Linked DNA regions of Homo sapiens: region 2 is linked to region 1. Evidence: fine-mapped expression QTL. A gene starts in region 1. The other region holds a variant in brackets. All regions are shown on one strand. Distances are between the middles of the regions. Region 1 holds the start of PRODH (proline dehydrogenase 1). Region 2 overlaps DGCR5 (DiGeorge syndrome critical region gene 5).

Region 1 (10,521 bases):
ACAGCCAATCGCAAGGCAGGGGCTGGGCTCCCCTGGCCAATCCTCTCCAGGCAGCTGGCAGCCGACATGCTGAGGCAAGCCTCAGACATTCCGTTCCCAGGGCTGGAGGCCTCATGTGACTGCCTTTCCCTCCCCTTCCCAGGCCAGCCACCAGGGGAGGGGCAGGAACAACCACCAAGGCCTGACCAGGTCCACAGAGGGACTGTCCCAAGCCTTATGTGGGTCAGGCCCGGCTGCTGTCAGGGTGCAGGGGACCCAAATACATAGGAAGACATAGGGAGATCCCATCTTTACAAAAAAAAATTAAAACTTAGCCAGGTATGGTGGTGCGTGCCTGTGGTCCCAGCTACTTAGGGGGCTCAGATGGGAGGATCACTTGAGCCCAGAAGGTTGGCTGCAGTGAACAATGGCACCACTGCACTCTAGCCTGGGCAACAGAGCAAGACCCTACTTTAAAAAAACTGGTTGAAAGAAATCAAAACAAGAATAATATTTTGTGACACAAGAAAATTATATGAAATTCTAATTACTATGGCCCTACTGAGGCAGAGTGAAGCCGTTGTGGCAGGGAGGGTGTGGCCCGACTGAGAGTCTGTGCTACCTGGCTGTTTACACAAACTTGCTGACCTGATGGAGGAGGCTCTGCTACAGCCTCTCTTTTGCAGGGATTCCTGACCCGCAGGCAGGTCCCACTGCCCGACCCTTGCCTGGCCTCAGCCTGCCCTGCAGTTGTGGAACCTCCCAGGCCTGGCCCCTGCCCCATTGTCAGTGGAGAAGGGAATTGAAGCCAGGAGCAGTGTAGCAGGCCGGCCTGGAGTCAGCTCCTGGAGGCCACTAAGCTGATACAAGGCCCCTTCCCTGGGCAGTGAGTGTAGAGGGCAGTTGGTACCACCCTGACCCGCCCTCCTGGGCAGGGCATCAGGACAGAACAACAAGACCACGTTTCCCTCCACTTCCTGGAGCAGTCCCTGGCTCATGTGAGATCCAGGCGAGACCAACCATTCTTTGCAGAGTGCTTGGTTCATATGCTGGTGCCTGTGCTCCTCCAGGCGGTGGACTAGATAGGGCCAAGGGCCATTCTGTACTCTGCTTCCTCAGGCCTCACGCACACCAGGCCTCCCATGAAAGCCCAGAGCTGTCCACCGCATGAAACAAAAATGCAAGAACTCCAGGCAGAGCCCAGGAGGGTCATCGGTAGTTGGGCTGACCAAGCTCTCCTAGCCTTGGCCTCTGCCCAGCTGAGGCTGAAGCCCAGCAGCTGGATACATCCCACCTGCTCCCACTGGGTGCTCCAGGGTCATGATCAGAAAGCCCGCAGACACCGGGCAGGCCTTACTCCATCTCCTTGTGCTCTGCCTCCTCGGGGCTCAGGTCCTCCTCCACTCCATAGTCCAGGATGGCGCTGACACCGAAGGCCCTGTAGTGCCGAAGCAGGGGCTGGATGGACTCCTGGTCCTCCCCGGCTACAAAATGCCCATAGAAGGTCATCTTCATGAGCTTGTTGAATAGCCTCTGTCCTAGAAGTTTCCTGGAAACATACAGCAGCTGAAAGGCAAAGGGAAGCCGCTGTCCTGGGCTGCCTGAACTCTCCTTTCCCAGCAAGGCACCGCTGCTCATCCCCGACCACACTTCACCCCAGCCATGGGGCCTCGATATGGTCTCTTGGCGACTGGGCTTTCAGGGTCAGTTTCATGGTGAAGACCAGCTAAAGCCGCTTGCTTCTCCACCCTGTCCATCACTCCAGTTCCCATCCAGGGCAGAGAGACCACAGGAGGTGCTGCCTGCTTGGCCTGAGGACACTGTTCCCACCTGGACTCTGCCCCTTCAGGGCCCCACCCATGAGTCACTCCAGCAGCACACAGTGGGTGCCTGACCACTGCTTGGTGGATAAAAAGGAGAATGGCCAGCCTCCCTGGGGATGACAGCCGGCATTTTGAGACCATCCTCTGTATCCACACCTTGGTAGTTCTGCTGCGGAAGAGGAGGATCTAACTTGACTTTCTAGTACTTGAGTGCCCAGATTTTTCAATGTTTTGTTCCCTCTTATCCCAAGTCCCTTAAACAGTGTGACTGGCATGAGGCCAGCCCCCGAATGGATGCTAAATAACAAACGTGTGAAACTCAGGCTGAGTCTGCGCCCAGCTGGAGGGAGGCATGCCCTGGCAACAAGGACAATGAGCTAGATGACAGTCCACAGGGGCCTGTGAGATGACTCCCACCCCAGGACCCATGCGCTCTGCAGGGTCATCTGGGGCTGACCAGCCACTCTGACAGATGCTGCCCGGGAACTGTCTGTCTCCTCCAATCATATTTCACCACGTCGCTCATTCAGATGTCCCAAGCTGCCATGCACCAAGCACCTTTTATAGACTGGAAACAACCAAAGGAAACCGACCAGGATCTCACATCCTGGTGGTAAAGGAACCCCAAAGGGGAAGGAGGGACTCTGCCTATGACTCAGGACAGGGGGATGGGGCAGTGCCTGCAGGGTAGGGCAGGGGTGTTTACTAACCCAGATCCAGGAGTGGGGCTTGCCAAGGCGAGGAGATGGCATGGACAACTGTGGGAGCTCCAGCACGGGGGACAGCCAGGGCAGAAAGGACAGGGACAACGAGAGGCTACTTGGAGAGGAGGGCCGAGTGTGATGCTCAGAAGCACACCTCCGCGTTGTGTCTGCTGCCCCTGCCGACTCAGCCCCAACACAGGAAGAGCCTGGGGTTTCTCAAACCCAATGGATACTAGAACTCCTTTTATGTGGGGAGCATCTCTTGAGACCGTAGTTTCAGGAACAACTTCTAGTCTAAGCAAAACCATTAGCGAGTCAAACACTTACACCCAAGCCAGCCCTGAGCACCCACACGCCTGCCCACAGGCAGACATAGCCCCACAGCCTTACCCTGAACATTGGTGCCCCATGGAGACGCCTCCTGACCATCACCCCTGGGCACGCCATGGGGCAGCCCCAAGGACCAGGGTTTCCCAGGCACTCACCCCTGCCTTCCTGCAGCCTCCAAGCAGAATCTGACTTTAAGGCATTTTGTTCTTTTATCAAGAGGATTAGAAACTGGAAAATGAACAGGCTGACATGTTCTCCGTCTCCCACTGAGCCTGAGCCAGGCCTCATTCCTGCTGGCAGCACCCAGGGATAGTTGGGAGAACAGGATGGGTCTGAAACATATCAAAGATCACCCAAGTGGCAGGCGGGGCAGAACTGGGGACCTGAACACCATCACTGGGCTTATCCACATCCGCTCTGAGAGAACCATCAGAAAACAACAGGAGGGAGGGTGGGCAACTGTCGACTGCCGCACGGGGCCACGCAGTCTCCCTCTACCTAACTGCTCGCCTCCGCACGGCCAGCACTAAATGAAGGGGCGGGAGCCCAGGCTGCACTGACTCCAGGGATGCTTATTCACAAAGATGGGGGGCTGGGGGACTGGGCCCGGGCTGAGGGTGGAAGCTCCCTGCACAGGGCTGCAGAAGCACACAGGCAGGGCTGGCAAGTTTTTTATTTATTTATTTTTAGAGGCAGGGTCTCACTCCTGGGCTCAAGCGACACTCCTATCTCGGCCTCCAGAGTAGTTGGGACTACAGGCATGCACCACCACACTCAGCTAACTTTTATTTTTTCTTTTTTTTGAGGCAGAGTTTTGCTCTTGTTGCCCAGGCTGGAGTGCAGTAGCACAATCTCGGCTCACTGCAACCTCCACCTCCCAGGTTCAAGCGATTCTCCCGCCTCAGCCTCCCAAGTAGCAGAGATTACAGGCGCACACCACCATGCCCAGCTAATTTTTATATTTTTAGTAGAGATGGGGTTTCTCCATGTTGGCCAGGCTGGTCTCAAACTCCTGACTTCAGGTGATCCACCCGCCTCGGCCACCCAAAGTGCTGGGATGACAGGCATGAGCCACCGCACCTGGCCCCAGCTAACTTTTAAAAATATTTTGTAGAGACAGGGTTTCACGATGTTGCTCAGGCTGGTCTTGAACTCCTAGCCTTAAATGATCCTCCTGCCTTGACCTCCTTAAGTGCTAGAATTACAGGCATGAGCCACCATGCCTAGGCATGAGCCTAGGGCTTGTAATTTTAAAGCTGACTCCACAGCAAAGCAACCACTTTAACACCATCCTGGTGTCACTGATGTCCCCGCATGGCACTACCTGAGACCAGGGCAGCCCCACATCTTCTTCAGGTGAGGAGATCCTTCGAGGATTTAGAAACCTGCACCAGTAACACATACACTTGTACCCCCTGTGAAAGACTCAACCAAATGTGTGCAGAGTAACACTGGTAGAGCCGGTTCTCTCCCCTCCCCCCACTCAGGGAACCACTGTCACCACGGGTCCTGTCCCTTCTGTGAGGGCGCACACCCAACCTCAGTGCTGTTGTCATGGAAATCCTGGGACTTTCCTAAACCCTCCTCAATAAGTCTGGCTTTCAGGCAAGGGCGGGCCCCACTGCTGTCCCCATCCAAGGCAGCAGCTCAAAGATCAGCTACTACAACCTGACACGCCTGTGGCAGATGTGGCCTCACTGCCCGGGTGCCTCACAGACCTGTGCTGGCTCAGCAGAAGGAATCTCCCCACAGCCCAGAGGGTGAGGGAAGGAACTCCCCTCTGGCCCGCTCACAGGACCAGGTTCTAGTGAGCAGCTCACAAGCCCAGGACCTGGCCTCTGCCTTCTTCCAGTGCTGAGGCTGCCGACACCCATGGGACCACTAGCAAGACAACAGTACAGACCCCACTGAGGGACTTCCCAGGGCACAGGTGGGACCCTAGGGGAGCCTGGGAGAGGTCACCTCTGGATGCCCTGCCTCTTCCAGGTACTCACAGCACCATCCCTGAGCCCTGGCACTTGCCTCAAGAAGGCACCCAAGGGACAGCGGAGCCAACAGTTTCCTCCCACAGTCACGGAACAGCACCTGGCATTCCCCGCAGCAGACTGGGCACCAAACCCCACACCCAGCTCTGCTGGCTTCTCTGTGCAACAACTTGTCTTGAATCTAGACAAGAAACCTTAGGGCTGTGCCTACAGAAACCTGACCTGGTGCCTTCCTAGCCCCCTCCCCATCCCAGCCATGCTTAGGGCTGTGCCTACAGAAACCTGACCTGGTGCCTTCCTAGTCCCCACTCCATCCCGGCCACAAGGTGGGCATGGCTTCTGCACGACTGGCCCCAGCTGCCACCTAGCATGCCCGTCCTTGCCCTGGGCAGGGACCTGTGGCTGGCCACTCCCTCCCCTGGCATTTCTGCCCTGCTGCCTCCTCCTCCTATTGCAGCACCACCAGCACTGGCTCCTCTTTTGGGATGCCCCTTAGATGTGGGCACTCCCCAAAGCCTCCACATCGCCGTCCCTCACCTTGCCAGTTCCTCTACCTGGGATGTCCCTTCTCGCCCTCCTGTCTCCTTGGCCGGGGCTCTCTATGACCAAAACTTGACCTTAAGACATCCTTGTGTGCACACACAGCAATGCCCTCCCAGAGCCCTCCATCTGTCCAGTTCAGCTCCTTCTTCCTCCACCATCCTCCGCACTCCCGCCACCACGGGTCCTAGGCTGACCTTGGCGCTCCCCATGGGATTCGGGCCAACAGCATCTGACTCTGAGTTCGTGGATCCCTGCCCTCACCTCGCACCCGCCGAGGCCTCACCTAAGCTCAACTGTGGCTCGGTGCTTCTCATCTGACACCGTCCCCCGCCTTCCCCCGCCTCCTGTTGAGGCCAGGGGTGCAGCCCCCGACCTCTGTACAGTCTCACCTGAGAAATCAACACCACCAGATACCCTGGCGCCAAAAAGCGGAACCTTGCAAACTCTTCCCAGGGTCACCTGGAGATAACCGTCATCTCTAGTACCCCTAGGCTGATGCGGCTAAAACAGTGTTCTGCTTGTTGCCCCCCACCACCGCCACCAAAAGCCCTGACACTTTTTAAAGCTACCATGGGTGAGTTCAAAGCTGGGCGTTTGAGGGGCTTCCCATTTTTCCCCAACAGTGTTCTCAGAGTGGCCGTGTCTGGGAAGCTGCTGGGTCCCGGGGTTTGAATTCCGGGGTTCCAGGCTATGAGCCCTACACCAGGATTCTCTTGTCTCAACATGAAGAATACTCCATTTTAAATTCCAAGTGATAACTCTGTATTCCCACAAGTGGTATATATCGTAAATATGAAAACGACCATTGTTTTTAGTTGGTAGACATCGACAAATAGGAAAATTTGCGAGGTCCGAGAGGGACTGCAGGAAACGCCTCCCTTCCTGGCTTCCCTTGCTCCAGGAGATGCTTGGGAGGCACCCGTTTCAGGCCAGGAAGCTCCGTAAAGGCTCCCGGGACCGGCAGAAGCCCCCGCGCCCCCGCCTGCACCCCGCGCACCTGCTCGTGGCGCGCCAGCAGCGCGGGCCAGGCGCACAAGCGCAGCACCAGCAGGCTCCGCGCCAGCTCCCAGGTTCGCCGGCTGCGGTACGCCTCCTGCGCGTTGCCGAAGTCCACGGCGGGCACCGGCGGCCGCACTGCCGTGGCCGACCCACCTCCTGGCACGGCCGCTGGGCCCGCTGCGGGCTGCTCGCGGGAGGCCGGCGCCGTGGACAGCGGGACGAAGCGGGGAATGCAGGGGCGCAGCGCGGGCAGGGCGCGCCTCAGAGCCATGGCGGGACGGCGGTACCCGCCCGGGCCGCTTAAGTGTGCGCTGTTGGTCCCGCCCCGCCCCGCCCCGCCCCGCCCCGCCCCGCTCGGTCCCAGAGGCCTCACCCTATATTCCTGACAAATGCCAGACAAGGGCTTAGACTTCACAAGCACCCTGGCACTTCAGCTGCATGGTGGGGACCCTCTGCCGGCAGGGCTGAGGCCAAGGCCCACTGGCTTCTCAAAGCCTCTGCTCCTGCTCTCCGTGAAGACAGCAACAGAGTGAGACCCTGTCTCAAAACAAAAATTATGTATTTTCAGATAGCTTGAAGGAGAATATTGAGTGTTCGTAATGCAAAGAAATAATAAATGTTTGAGATGATAGGTATGCTAATTACCCTTATCTGATCACTATACACGTACAGAAACATCACTACGTACCCCACAAATATGTACAATTATTATGTGTCAACTAAAAAATAAAAATAGCCGGGTGTGGTGGCTCACGCCTGTAATCTCAGCACTTTGGGAGGCCGAGGCAGGAGGATCTTTTGAGCCCAGGAGTGCCAGAGCAGTCTGGGCAACATAGTAAGACCTCGTCTCTACAAAAAATAGAAAATTAACCAGGCATAGTGTTGCATGTCTGTAATCCCAGCTACTCAGGAGGCTGAGGTGAGGGGATTGCTTGAGCCCAGGAGGTTGAAGCTGCAGTGAGCTGATTGTGCCACTGAACTCCAGCCTGGGCAATGGAGGGAGACCCTGTCTCAAAAATAAAAGTGAATTTTTTTTTTTTGAGATGGAGTCTTGCTCTGTCTCCCAGGCTGGAGTGCAGTGGCATGATCTCAGCTCACTGCAACCTCTGCCTCCCGGGTTCACGCCATTCTCCCACCTCAGCCTCCAGAGTAGCTGGGACTACAGGCGCCTGCCAAGCCTGGCTAATTTTTTATGTTTTTAGTAGAGACGGGGTTTCACCGTGTTAGCCAGGATGGTCTTGATCTCCTGACCTTGTGATCCGCCCGCCTCCGCCTCCCAGAGTGCTGGGATTACAGGCGTGAGCCACCACGCCCGGTGAATTTTTTTTTTTAAAGAAAGATTCCGGACACAAACGGCCACAAGTTGTATGGTTCGTTTTATATGAAGAGTTCAGAATAGACAAATCGATAGAGACAGAAGTCACACGAAGACAAGCCCATAGTGGAGCCTGGTGAGTATGGCACTGGCAGTGGTGCCTGGAGGTGGAGGACGGGAGGAGTGGGAGGGGCTGCCAAGGCCCACGGAGTTTCTTTGGGGTCCGGAAATACTCTGGGGCTAGAGAGTGGTGATGTTTGCTCAACCTTGTGTATAGACTAAAAAACCATTCAATATCTCAATAAAGCTGTTATATTTTTTTAAAAAAGCAAAGTTCTAGCATTTGCTTCAAGGAAGCCTGTGGCCCTGCACAGAGGCAAAGGTGGGCAGGGGCTGCCAGGGGCAGGGCTGCAGAGAGGGCAGGGGGAGAAGCGAGGGGTGCAGGGATCACAGAGATCACCACTCACGTCCAGACCATAGCAGAGCAGGCCTAGCGCTGGGTGCCCAGGCCCACGGGAGAGCCCACCTGTGAGGGCACCTGTGGGAACAAGGCTGGCCTGAAAGTCACTGGCTCCATGTGACAATCAATGAAACAACCGAGTTTCACAGGAGCTCTGTAAATCCTAGGAAGCAGGTCTTAGGCTCAGCTGGGGACCCTTGGCAGGTGGCTACCCTGAGCCAGCTGATGGCTTTTTTTTTTTTTTTTTTTAAGAGACAGGGTCTCTCTCTGTTGCCCAAGCTGGAGTGCAGCCATGTGATCACAGCTCACTGTGGCCTTGAACTCCTGGTGTCTCATGTGTCCCTGTGAAGGGACCACCAACCAGCTTTGTATGAGCAACAAGGCTGTTTATTTCACCTGGGTGCAGGCAGGCTGAGTCCAAAAAAGGAGTCAGCAAAGGGTGGTGGGATTATCATTAGTTCTTACAGGTTTTGGGATAGGCAGTGGAGTTAAGAGCAATGTTCTGGGGGCAGGGGTGGATCTCACAAAGTACCTTCTCAAGGGTGGGGAGAATTACCAAGAACCTTCTTAAGGGTGGGGGAGATTATGAAGTACATTGATCAGTTAGGGTGGGGCAGAAACAAATCACAATGGTGGAATGTCATCAGTTAAGGCTATTTTCACTTCTTCTGTGGATCTTCAGTTGCTTCAGCCCATCTGGATGTATCCGTGCAGGTCACAAGGGATATGATGGCTTAGCTTGGGCTCAGAGGCCTGACACCTGGGCTCAAGTGATCCCCCTGCCTCAACCTCCCAAGTAGCTGGGACTACAGGCTGGACTGCACCTAGCTAATTTTTAAAAAATATTTTTTTGTGGAGACAGGGTCTGGCTGTGTTACCCAGTGTGGGGAAAAGCAAGAGAGATCAGATTGTTACTGTGTCTGTGTAGAAAGAAGTAGACATAGGAGACTCCATTTTGTTATGTGCTAAGAAAAATTCTTCTGCCTTGAGATTCTGTTAATCTATAACCTTACCCCCAACCCCGTGCTCTCTGAAACGTGTGCTGTGTCAACTCAGAGTTAAATGGATTAAGGGCGGTGCAGGATGTGCTTTGTTAAGCAGATGCTTGAAGGCAGCCTGCTCCTTAAGAGTCATCACCACTCCCTAATCTCAAGTACCCAGGGACACAAAAACTGCGGAAGGCCGCAGGGACCTCTGCCTAGGAAAGCCAGGTATTGTCCAAGGTTTCTCCCCATGTGATAGTCTGAAATATGGCCTCGTGGGAAGGGAAAGACCTGACCGTCCCCCAGCCCGACACCCGTAAAGGGTCTGTGCTGAGGAGAATTAGTAAAAGAGGAAGGAATGCCTCTTGCAGTTGAGACAAGAGGAAGGCATCTGTCTCCTGCCTGTCCCTGGGCAATGGAATGTCTCGGTATAAAACCCGATTGTATGCTCCATCTACTGAGATAGGGAAAAACCGCCTTAGGGCTGGAGGTGGGACCTGCGGGCAGCAATACTGCTTTGTAAAGCATTGAGATGTTTATGTGTATGCATATCTAAAAGCACAGCACTTAATCCTTTACATTGTCTATGATGCAAAGACCTTTGTTCACGTGTTTGTCTGCTGACCCTCTCCCCACAATTGTCTTGTGACCCTGACACATCCCCCTCTTCGAGAAACACCCACAAATGATGAATAAATACTAAGGGAACTCAGAGGCTGGCGGGATCCTCCATATGCTGAACGCTGGTTCCCCGGTTCCCCTTATTTCTTTCTCTATACTTTGTCTCTGTGTCTTTTTCTTTTCCAAATCTCTCGTCCCACCTTACGAGAAACACCCACAGGTGTGTAGGGGCAACCCACCCCTACATCTGGTGCCCAACATGGAGGCTTTTCTCTAGGGTGAAGGTACGCTCGAGCGTGGTCATTGAGGACAAGTCGACGAGAGATCCCGAGTACGTCTACAGTCAGCCTTACGGTAAGCTTGTGCGCTCGGAAGAAGCTAGGGTGATAATGGGGCAAACTAAAAGTAAAATTAAAAGTAAATATGCCTCTTATCTCAGCTTTATTAAAATTCTTTTAAAAAGAGGGGGAGTTAAAGTATCTACAAAAAATCTAATCAAGCTATTTCAAATAATAGAACAATTTTGCCCATGGTTTCCAGAACAAGGAACTTTAGATCTAAAAGATTGGAAAAGAATTGGTAAGGAACTAAAACAAGCAGGTAGGAAGGGTAATATCATTCCACTTACAGTATGGAATGATTGGGCCATTATTAAAGCAGCTTTAGAACCATTTCAAACAGAAGAAGATAGCGTTTCAGTTTCTGATGCCCCTGGAAGCTGTTTAATAGATTGTAATGAAAAGACAAGGAAAAAATCCCAGAAAGAAACGGAAAGTTTA
Region 2 (11,718 bases), 44 kb after region 1:
TTGGCCCGGCTTTCCCTGTGGAGTTCCGACTCTGGTGCTTCTGCCTCAGAATGCCCAGAACACCTCCCCACACCCCAACTCAGCAGAGTCCTCCTGGGACCTTTGCATGGCCAGCTGGCCCCTCACCCCATCCATTTGCAGAAGGGACAATAAAAGCCCCTAGTCAGGCAACTCAGGCCACAGGTGAGTGGAGAGGGGACAGGGCAGGGATGCTGCCCAGCTTGGGAGACCCTCCCATAGTACCTTCACTCCCTCCCTGCCCTCCCCCTGTTCCTCACCTGGGGGTCTGTGGAACCCCTGAGCCTCAGTTTCCCTGTGCCAGGGTCCTTCCACTGGGACTGGCAGAAACGTAGGTTTGCATGGAGTGAGAAGCAGGGGAGAGGTTGAGGGAGGGCCTGGCCCAGCAGGTCTCTGAAAGCCAGAGGGCTTGTGGAGGGTCTATGGAGGACACCCCCACAGGGGCTGGGGCCCTGGAAGGTGGGGGAAGGTCCTGTTGTCCTGGGAGGCTGGGGACTGGCCCACAGCCTGTGGAGGGGCTGGGGTTTGTTTGCTGTTGCTGTGAGTGACAGGCAGGCTGTGAGGGCCAGGGCATGTGGGACCGTGCCCTCCGCCTCCCTCTGCCCAAGGACAGTGCAGCCTTGTAGCACTGCCCTCTCCTCGTCCCTGCCCCAGCCTTGAATTCATGCTTTGTGGCACGGACGGCCCTGTGCAGCCGGTGCAACACCAGGAGGGTCCAGCTGGTGAGGACAGGACGGGTGGGAGGCAGAGGAGCCCTCCTGCTGTCCTGGGCCTGTGGCCCGGAACCTCTCACCGGGAGCCTTGGTCTGTGCACCTGGGAAAGGGGTCAAGAACAGGAAGCATACGGGGAGTTTCAGGATGACCTGGAAATGAACAAATGCATGTGTGAGCCAGGCGCCCTGCCCGGCCCTGGCACAGGGTTAGTGAGGGCTCCCGACGCTTGGCTACTGTCTGATCAATGAGGTTCATGCCGTCCCGCCCCCATTCTGGCAAGCCTGACCTCTGATCCCCAGGCTGGCCTGCCTGACCCTCTGCAGCCACCCAGGGCCTGGGCTTTGGGGTCTGCAGGAGCCGGCCTGGCTGCCTGCTGCCTCTGCAGCTGTGCAGATGCCCTCTCGGGGCCCTCTCTGCACCCCTCAGTGTCCCTGCTCTGCAGCCTGGCTGCACCCAGGCCAAGGTCACAGGCACCCTCCTCGAAGCCAGATCCCAGATGCTGCATTTGCCCCAACTGTCCGTTCACTTTCTCATTTGTTCATTCATTTGCTTGTTCGTTCCTAGCCTGTCAGATTCTCTTCTGAGCCAGGCAAATCAAGGGGTGCAATCCTTGGCATCGTGCATCTCTAGGATTAAATGCTTTAAAGGATAGGAGGTAACAGAGTGGCCCCGGGGAAGCCCGATCGGAGTGGCGGGCATGCTACCCCACCCTGCAAATCTCCCTGCACTGTCCCTGGGGCCCAGCTGGGTTCCCCACACCAGTTGTTCTGTGCTGCCGTTTCTTCTTTTATCGCTGTATTTTAAACACTTTGCACATCGGGAACTATTCTTGTGCATCGTGGGTTTTCTGGTGTGTGTGGAATCCCTTCCTGAGAATGCACCATCATTTATTTATCCAAACCTGCACCGGCCTCCTGCACTGCCTGCAGCCGTGGAGCTGGGCACCGGGAGATGCAGCTCTGCACACCCACCCCACCATGTCCTCAGCTGGCACCCACCAGGTCTAGGGGCTGGTCACGTGCCTCTCCCCTGATGCTTGAGCTGATTTCAGGGGACTCGGCAGCAGGGCCAGATCCCGCCCCTCCTAGCCAGCTGAGGCCTTTGACAACCGTGGGCTGGCCGGGTGGGTGATGGTGAGTGAGTAGAGTCTGGGCATCCATTTGTGCAGTGGGTGCCTTGGGGCCGCCTCTCCTCTCCCTCTTTCACACAGCCTCTGGTCTTGCCCGCTATGGCCTGCGGGGCCTCTTCTGCGGGGCAGCAGGGCAGCGGGGCATGGGGTAATGCTGACACTGTTCTGCAGCTGTGTCCTGTCCAATGGAGGCAACCCACGGCAGCCAGACCAGGAGGTGGAGAAGAAAGGCAGGGCTGTTGGCACACCTCGAGAGTGGCCTTAGGAGAGGCTGAGTGGGCACAGGCCAGGGTCCCCATGTAGTTCTACACAGGCCTGGCAGGCGGTAAGCCCCATTCAGGGCCCTGGCACATGGAGCCGGGCTGATCTGGGAGTGAAGTGTCAGGTGCTGACCCAGCCTCACTCAGAGCAGCCTGCCCTGGGCCCCCGGGTGCCTCTTGGCTCTCCAGTCGGCACCCTGGCATTCTTAGCTGGCTGTCACGGGTCACGGTCCATGGAGTTGAAATTCTTTGGAATGTTGGGGGTATCACATAAGGGCTTTGTGGTCAAATGTGGGACCTGCTGGAATAAATGGTGCTGATGGTGCTCCTTTCCCGCAGGGCATCTTGGGCTCTGTTTTGGAGAGGGGTGGGCAGCACCTTCTCTGAGAGGCACCCCTATGCGATGTACCTCAGGGCCTGGTGTGCCCAGGAACCTGTTTTGGGAAACAGTGGTTGAAGTGCCTCGGAGGACCAGAGGAGACCTGTGGGCCTCCAGCAAGTGCCCCAGGATGGGTAGACCCTGCCACACAAACCCCGCACCCACGGGGCGCCCAGTGGGTGGAGGGACCACTGCTTCCCCCAGCAGTTTGAGGCGATGTGCAAATTTAACCTTTGGATTTATGACTCAATTTCTTTGTAGCAAATGTCACGGGAAATGTCAGGCCAAGGCTGAGGCTGGGTGAGGGGCCCGTCGAGGAAGCGGGTAGGGCTAGGCAGGCTAGAGTACCGAGGAGGGGCTCAGGCCAGGGTGGGCTTCAGGCCCCTCACCTCCTCCTGGGAGCCTTCCTGGATTGTCCCTTGCTTGCCTGGATCCCCGGCACTGTGTCCTCAATTTGTCCCAGCTATCACAACCTTGTTGAGATGTTGCCTTTATTTGCCTTCTACCAGGGCCCAGATGAGGCCAGCTCGGGGACATGCCAGAAGTCCCCCATTCCCCAAGGCTGGGCAGCCATGGGATCAGCTTGTGCAGTGCCGGCTTGCTGTATGACCTTGGGCAGCTCCACCCTTCCTGGTCACCGTAGGCCTCTCTGCAGTCCACAGCTGGTGGCCAGAGGTGGTGTTCCCAGCTCAGTGCCTTCAAGAGTGGGAAAACGCCTAGAGTCCTCAGTATGTGGGGTGTGGGGCTCTGGAGGAAGTGGGTGGGGGCTGAATGCAGGGCTGGGGTTGCGGAGGGCTGGCCCTTGGTGGTCCCAGGGGCTAGAGCAGCCCCTGCACACAGCAGGTGCTCAGTAAAGACCAAAAGGCAGTGCGTGGATGTGGAAGGTGGAGGTGGATTCCAGCTGGGAGTCCACAGTCCCCAGTTACATGTCCCCCCTCCACCGCCACATGCCAGATGTCATTCCAAGGCCCCACGCTGGCCCGTCACCAGCTCTGCCCTGCCTCCCAGGCCCGGGCGGGTCAGGGAATGGTGACTGCCTCCTCCCTGCCGTGTGCCAGGCCTGTGCACTGGAGCAGGGGTTCAGGCTCCCTAGTGCTCTGCATCTCTCCTGCACACACAGCTCCCCACACTGCACACCTTAGGCCTCCAGATCCAGCCTGTCTGCTAGTGTCACATCCTCCGTACCCAATGTCCAAGCCCAGAGTCTCAGCCTCTTCCCTCGACCCATCCCCAAAAGCAAAATCAGTGTCAAACCTGCACCCTGTCTCCCGGTCCATCCCCTTTACTCCTCACTGAGGACCAGCCTCAGACCTGGCCTCTGTCCCCAGCCTGTGGCCACAGCTGGCCCCTGCAACCTCCCTGCCTCCTGGGTTCAAGCGATTCTCCTGCCTCAGCCTCCTGAGTAGCTGGGATTACAGGTGCCCACCACCAAGCTAATTTTTTTGTATTTTTAGTAGAGATGGGGTTTCACCATGTTGGCCAGGCTGGTCTTGAACTCTTGACCCCAAGTGATCCACCCACCTCAACCTCCCAGAGTGCTGGGATTACAAGCGTGAGCCACCGTGCCTGGCCTCTGAAGGACACTTTCAAGAGAATACACAAACAACAAATCAGGAGAAACTATTTGCAAATCATATATCTGGTAAAAGACTTATATCCTAAATATACAAATAATAACTCTCAAAACTCAATAATAAGAAAAAAACCTATTCACAAATTGGGCAAAATAATTGAACAGATGGTTCACCAAAGAAGACATTTTGTCAGCAAACAGGCACCTGAATAGATGCTCCACATCTTTAGTCATTATGGAAATGCAAAATAGAACCTCAGTGAGATAATATTTCACACCCACTAGGATGGCTGTAATTTAAAACAGAAAATATCAAGTGTTAGGAAGGATGTGGAGGAACTGGAACTCTCATACGCTGTTGGTGGGAATATAACATGATGCAACCACTTTGGAAAATAGTTTGGTAGTTTCTTAAAGAGTTAAATATGAACCTACCATATGACAGTCATTCCCCTCCTAGGTATTTACCCAAGATAAGTGGAAGCATTTGTCCAGACAAAGATTTGTATACAAAGGTTTATAGCAGCTTTATTCGTATAAGCAAAAACTGGAAATGACCCAGAAGTCTGTCCACATGTGAATGGATAAACAGGCTATGTGATATCAATACAGTGGAATTGACTTTTGACACATGCAACGTGGATGTGTATCATGGATGAATATCAAAGGATTTTAGACATGGATAAATATCAGAATGATTATGCTGAGTGAAAGAAGTCAGACAAAAAGGAGTACATACTGTATGTTTCTGTTTAGATTAAATTCCACAAGATGTAAACTAATCTACAGTGACAATATAGAAGAATGGTTGCCCGGGGCAGGGAAGGGCACGGGGAACCTTTTGGGGGTAACCACCTCAACTGTGGTCAGAGGTTCACAGGTACAAACATGTCAAAAGGTACCAAATTATACGTTTTAAATGGGTGCAATTTATGTCAATTACACCTCAACAGAGAAAAATACAATGCTTATTTTATGCAAAGGGTTATTTTGTAAAACTCTTTTGAGGAGGACCGTCCTGGTCAGCGGCCCTCACCATCGAGACTCTCCCTGCACATGGGTGCTGTGGTGACTCGGCCCCTGGGCTCACCCTCTGGTGCTGTGTGCACCTCAAGAGCAGGATGGAAAGGTCCCCTCCCCACAGCCTGGCTGTCAGACCCCCGGCACAGAGGTGCACCGTGCAGCCTCCCGTCATTTCCCATTTGCCTGCCCAAGCTCTCAGTGTCTGAGCTCTGTCCTCTTTCTGGAAGACAGCCAGGTTTAGTGTTGGGAGCAGGAGACCAGCATGGGCTAGCCCAGTCCCACCACCTGAACAGAGGGGCTGTGATCCTCCAAGCTACCCAGGGAAGGTGCCACCTGGGTGCACAGCTGGTCCCAATGGTCAGGCCTCCCCTTGACAGAGGGGCAGGGCCGTGTCATGGTCAGGGCCTGTGCTCTAAAGCCAGACTGAGGGTCAAAACCCAGCTGCCCCATTTACAAGCTTCACGGTCTCAGGAGTGTCACTCTGCACATCAGTTTCCTCATCTGTAAAACCGATCAGTGACATCTGCCTGGTTACCTGCTGGGGCAAGTGGGTGAGTTGAGTCCGATGAAGCACTTAGAACGGTGCCTGGTATGTGGCAGTGTACAGAGCATGGGGCAATCACTGCAGCCGACCTAGCTGGTGGCTCCAGTGGGCCTTAGTGCCCCAGGCATCTGAGGAGCCCACTCTTCAGCACTGCCCCCGAGTGGCTGCAGCACACACTCCCCCAGGACTCATTCAGCCCTCCCAAGGAGTGGGAAGCCTCCGGAACCTGGTGCTGTCCGAGGCACGACACGCAGGAAGCAGGGCAGGTGTCCTCCCTGGCCCCTCACCCTTCCTAGCCAGGCTGCAGCTGATCCGAGGTGGTTCCTTGATCCTGGAGTCTGAAGGGACATTGAGGGGCTACCTGTGCTCCAAACAGACCAGCCCGCTTCTCATCTGCTTCACACACAGGGGTTCTGGGTAAGATTTCACTTCATTTCTTTGAAACACCACTCTGCTGGGCCAGCCAAGTCCTGTAGACCCCATCACTTGTACCCCTTGACCTCAGCAACAGGACCAAGACCTGTAGACCCCACCACTTGCACCCCTTGACCTGAAAAACAGGACCACAACCTACACCCAGCC[G/A]TCCTCACCTGGACTATGAGGATGGTACTGCTCACTGGCTCCGGACAGCTGTGTGACTCCAGGGGAGCCAGCTGTGGTTGAGATCTCGGGGGTCTTGGTAAATCTGGTAAACTCCTTGTGCAGTTCTAGCGAGCCCAGTGTGAGGACTGCCTGTTGGCTGGGAACCGTAAATCTGCTTGGGTTTCATGAGAATCTTGCCCTGAGTGACCTCCAGCTGGGGAACTCACCCTCCATCTGCGCCAGGGAGAGCTTGGTCATTGTCTGCAGGGACCCAACTAATCAGGACGGGCTTCCACGAGGAGACAGATTTGAAAGTATGCTCTCTTCGGGAAGCAGTAGCTTTAAACTGGACTAGCTCTTATATAATGGGCACTGTGTCCCTAACGAAACCAAAATATGGTCCAATAATGGCTTCTTTGAGGGAAGCACAGGGCAGTTGGGTTGTCCAAAGCCTTCTTTGGAACTTCACAGGTTTAAAAGGTGATGGTTCAAGAGGCCCCAGTATTATTCAGCCATATAAAGGAATACATAAACAAAAATGTGGCCTAGCCATACAGTGGAATATTACTCAGCCATAAAAAAATAACATTCTAATACGTGCTACAACATGGAAGAACCTTGAAGCATGATCCTGAGTGAAAGAAGCCAGACACAAAAGGTCACATGTAATGTGATTCCACTCATATGAAATATCCAGAATAGGTCAATTCAAAGCGACGGAAGATACATTAGAGGTTGCCAGGGGCCAGGGAACAGGGAAATGGGGAGTGACTGCTAATGGGTTCTGCTTTAGGGTAATAAAAATGTTCTGGAATTAAACAGCAGTGATGATTGCACACCATTGTGAATGTACTAAAACCAATTAATTCTACCCTTTAAAGTGGTGGATCTTATGTGAATTATATCTCAATTGTATCTAAATAAATAATAATTTGTAAAGGCCTCAGGAGAGGAGCTGATAATCAGGACTTAATCCCTGACTTGGCACACTACCTGTCACCCAACTGTCTCCAGTCCTTCATACTCATCAGGAGCCTTGTGCAACATCACCTTTGCACTTGAGGCTTCCTCTGCTTAGAATGCTGATCTGCCTGCCCCAGCATGTCCCATGAGCCTGCCTGGCTCAGCTCAGTGACTCTCGGCTTCTGCTCTCCCCATTCCAGGTATCACAGCTTGTATTCTGCTTTCAGAAATCAGGTAGTCAATCTTGCTGGTGCCTAGGGGACTGGCATTCTGTCACATATAAAGAGTGGGTGACCGCCAGGTGCGGTGGCTCACACCTGTAATCCCAGCACTTTGGGAGGCTGAGGTGGGAGGATCACGAGGTCAGGAGATCGAGACCGTCCTGGCTAACACGGTGAAACCCCATCTCTACTAAAAATACAAAAAATTAGCTGGGCGTGGTGGCGGGTGCCTGTAGTCCCAGCTACTCAGGAGGCTGAGGCAGGAGAATGGCATGAACCCAGGAGAGCTAAGATCGCGCCACTGCACTCCAGCCTGGGCAACAGAGCAAGGCTCCATCTCAAAAAAAAAAAAAAAATGAGTGGGTGACCAGCATTAGAGCATCAGGGAACACCCTCACCCAGGCACTCACCTGTGGGATGAAGCCACAGCACATCACCATGTGGAAGCCAAACTTGGTCACATACTGAGGCTCAGCACCCTCACCTCTTCAGCCTGTTGACAGAGATCCTTGGCCTGAAGGAGCTGTTTGTCTTTCTCTTAAATGCCAGACCTCAGCAGAGCATCAGTACAAGCCTGGGCTGCACATGCTAGAATATGGGTGGTCTAAGGATGTACTACATACAGTAGCAATTAGTCAATATATGGATCTGCCAGGACACTCCTACCTGAAGCACACTGGACAGCAGGGTTGGGTATAAAAGGGGTTATTATTACCTCAAGCACACCAGACAAGAGGGCTGGGTATAAAAGGGGTCATGTGCCAATTCTACTAGCTTATCAGCTCCATCAAAATTCTTATTTAATAATGTCATTTTCATAATGTAGTGTAAAGGGAGATGGTATACAACTCAACCTATTATTGAAATGCCACCAAGAAGTACCATGAGCACCAATCTAGGGTAGACAATGTGGCTGGGTCAAGGTACCCAAAAGCAATCTGAACATACCCACTGTGTTCTCCTCCTTCAACTTCTCCCTGAGCTTCTGGTTGTAAAGGTGCAAATCTGCCATCTGGTCTCCAAGTTTTGATGCTTAACGGAGGAAAGAAGAAATGCCCCTAATTAAAATAACAAATAAAAAATAACATTATCCAGTTTGTTCCATTTTCAGAAATGTTTTAAATACATTAAAAACTACTCTGCACTCTTTAAAAAGTAAAAAATGAACCCCAGGCAATGACTCTTTTCCTATTTCTTTTTTTTTTCTTTTCTTTTTTGAGACGGGGTCTTGCTGTGTCATCCAGGCTGTAGTGCAGTAGCACAATCATGGCTCACTGCAGCCTTGACCTCCAGGCCTCAAGCAATCCTCCCACCTCAGCCTCACAACTAGCTGGGACAACATGCATGTGCCACCATTCCTTTTTTTTTTTTTTTTTTTTTAAGATATGGAGTCTCCCTATGTTGCCCAGCTGGTCTTGAACTCCTGAGCTCAGGCGATCTTCCTGCCTTGGCTCCCCAAAATACTGGGATTACAGGTGTGAACCACTATGCCTAGCCCTGGCAATGACGCTTTCCAAAATATAAAATTGTGTAATCACAAAGAGGAATTAAGCAGGTGAGCTTCAACAGAAGTCTTAGCAGGTACTAGGAATTAAAGGAGGAGTGCTGAAAAAGTAACAATAAGTGAAAATGCAGGGTCAGGCACAGTGGCACAGTGGCTCAGGCCTATAATCCCAGCACTTTGGGAGGCTGAGGTGGGAGGACTGCATGAGACCAGGAGCTGAAGACCAGCCTGGGCAACATAGTGAGATCCCATCTCTACAAAAAATTTAAAAATTAAAAAAAAAATAGCTATAAATTTTTTGTGAAAACCAATGTAAATCACATATAGGAAAAAGACTGGGACTGGGTGTGGTGGCTCACAACTGTAATCCCAGCACTTTGTGAGGCTGAAGGGGGTGGATCACTGAGGTCAGGAGTTTGAGGCCAGCCTGGCTAGCATGGTGAAACCCTGTCTCTACTAAAAATACAAAAATTAGCTGGTTGAGGTGGCCGGATACCTGTAATCCCAGCTACTCGGGAGGCTGAGGCAGGAGAATTGCTTGAACTTGGGAGGGGGAGGTTACAGTGAGCCAAGATCGTGCCATTGCACTCCAGCTTGGGTGACAGAGCAAGACTTTGTCTCAAAAAACAAGCAAACTGTCTGGGTGGGGTGGCTCACGCCTGTAATCCCAGCACTTTGGGAGGTTGAGGCAGGTGCATCATGAGGTCAGGAGATCGAGACCATCCTGGCTAACACGGTGAAATCCCGTCTCTACTAAAAATACAAAAGAGAAAAGAAAAAAAAATAGCTGGGCGTGGTGGTGGGCGCCTGTAGTCCTAGCTCTTAGGGAGGCTGAGGCAGGAGAATGGCATGAACCCAGGAGGCGGAGCTTGCAGTGAACCGAGATCGCGCCACTGCACTCCAGCCTGGGTGACAGTGAGACTCCAACTCAAAAAAAAAAAAAAAAAGAATTGCGTATTTGTTTGTTTTGAGACAGGGTCTCACTCTGTCATCCGGGAAGGAGTGCAGTGGCGCGATCTTGGCTCACTAGAGCCTCTGCCTCCTGGGTCCAAGCAATTCTCCTGCCTCAGCCCCGGAGTAGCTGGGATTACAGGTGTGTGCCACCACACCCTGCTGTGTTTTTGTATTTTTACTAGAGACGGGGTTTCACCATGTTGGCCAGGCTGATCAAGAACTCCTGGCCTCAAGTGATCCACCTTCCTCGGCCTCCCAAAGTGTAGGATTGCATGTTTAAAAAAAATCAAACCTCATGAATGAGACCAAAGCGTCTACTGGCGCACAGGAAAAGAACACCCTTTACTTGAAATTACCCCAGGGAAAACCCAGGCACAGCCTCCCCAGCCTGGCAGCCCCTGCCAGCCTGTACCTAGGGTGGGCGTGAGCGTCCACAGCTGGGAGAGCAGCCGGCACACCCCAGCCCTGCTCCCAGGGTGAGCCACGCATGCACCAGGCAGAGAACTCCTGGGCTTCCGGCTGCTAAGCCCCAGGGGCCCCAGCGTCACCTGCTCTCGTGCGTGGACTGAGCACCTACTGTGTGCAGGCCCTTCTCAGGGGTGGGAGGGAAGGAGTGGTCTCACCCTGCAGAGCTTTCAGGACAACTGAGGAAGTTTCCCAGGGTCCATGGGAAGTCTGAACCAAAAACTGCTTCCCAGTGAGTGGGACTCCTCACTTTGAGGGATTTGGGTTCTGAGCCAGTAGAGCAGGCAATGCAAGAGGATCCGATCCCACATCCAGGCTGCATGGCTCTGGGAGTCCTCCTGCCAGCACTCTCCACCAGGACCCCTGCTGCCCCTCAGAGCACCCCCCACCAGAGTATGCAGGGCCTCTTGAGCCCACTTGGGCCAGGAGGGCACCCAGGCCTGCCTTTCCCTGCCTGCCTGCTCTCAAGGGTTAAGCTAACTTTCTCCATTTGTGCTAACGTTTTCCATACATTCTTTATTTATTTAATTTTTTTTATTTTTTGAGACAGAATCTTGCTCTGTCGCCCAGGCTGGAGTGCAGTGTTACCGTCTCAATCTAGGCTCACTGCAACCTCTGCCTCCCGGGTTCGACTGATTGTCTTGCCTCAGCCTCCTGAGTAGCTGGGATTACAGGCCCGTGCCACCCCCCCGCCCCCACTGGCTAATTATTGTATTTTTTAGTAGAGACGGGGTTTCACCATGTTGGCCAGGCTGGTCTCAAACTCCTGATCCACCCACCTCAGCCTCCCAAAGTGCTGGGATTACAGGCATGAGCCACCACGCTTGGATTTCCATACATTCTGGCCATTGGGACGAGCTGTGCACCCAGGTGTCACATTCCCTGGGTAGCTTGGAGGATCACAGCCCCTCTGTTCAGGTGGTGGGACTGGGCTAGCCCATGCTGGTGTCCTGCTCCCAACACTAAACCTGGTTGTCTCATCCACGCAGGGCCCCCACAGGACCTCCAGTCCATGCAGGGCCCCCACGAGACCTTCTGGTCTGCACAGGGCCCCCAGAGACCAGGAAGGATCCCCTCGCTGGAATTTGAGTCCCAGCCTGCGAGTTGGGCCAGTGGCATTTGTTCTCCACGTGTGACTCTGTAAACAGCTTTCCCTCCTGGTTTCTGTCTTTTTTTTTTTTTTTTTTTTTCCGAGACATGGTCTTGCTCTGTTGCCCAGGCCGGAGTGCAGTGGTGTGATCTTGACTCACTGCAACCTCCACCTCCCGGGTTCAAGCAATTCCCCTGCCGCAGCCTCCCAAGTAGCTGGGATTACAGGCGCCCACCACCACGCCCAGCTAATTTTTTGTATTTTTAGTAGAGATGGGGTTTTACCATGTTGGCCAGGAT

The links. PIP is the estimated chance that this variant, and not a neighbour inherited with it, causes the effect.
Region 2: its variant is fine-mapped to the expression of PRODH in lung (TOPMed, PIP above 0.99).

Annotation. Positions count from the first base shown.
Region 1 is chr22:18,929,654-18,940,174 of GRCh38, forward strand. PRODH (proline dehydrogenase 1) reads right to left here and starts at 6,640. Exons shown (of 14, transcript NM_016335.6): 1 at 6,362-6,640; 2 at 1,337-1,545. The coding sequence starts at 6,634. LOC122455341 (a long non-coding RNA gene) reads left to right here and starts at 6,770. Exons shown (of 4, transcript NR_173080.2): 1 at 6,770-6,995; 2 at 7,699-7,814; 3 at 10,020-10,096. RefSeq lists a cis regulatory region at 6,622-6,856, a promoter at 6,870-10,084, enhancers at 9,020-10,084, 9,043-9,337, 9,199-9,706 and a silencer at 9,043-9,337.
Region 2 is chr22:18,972,882-18,984,599 of GRCh38, forward strand. The region is part of intron 1 of DGCR5 (DiGeorge syndrome critical region gene 5); the gene reads left to right. Among named protein-coding and RNA genes, the nearest start is that of DGCR5, 8.3 kb to the left of the region's middle. The variant G/A (reference allele first, on the strand shown) is at 6,223.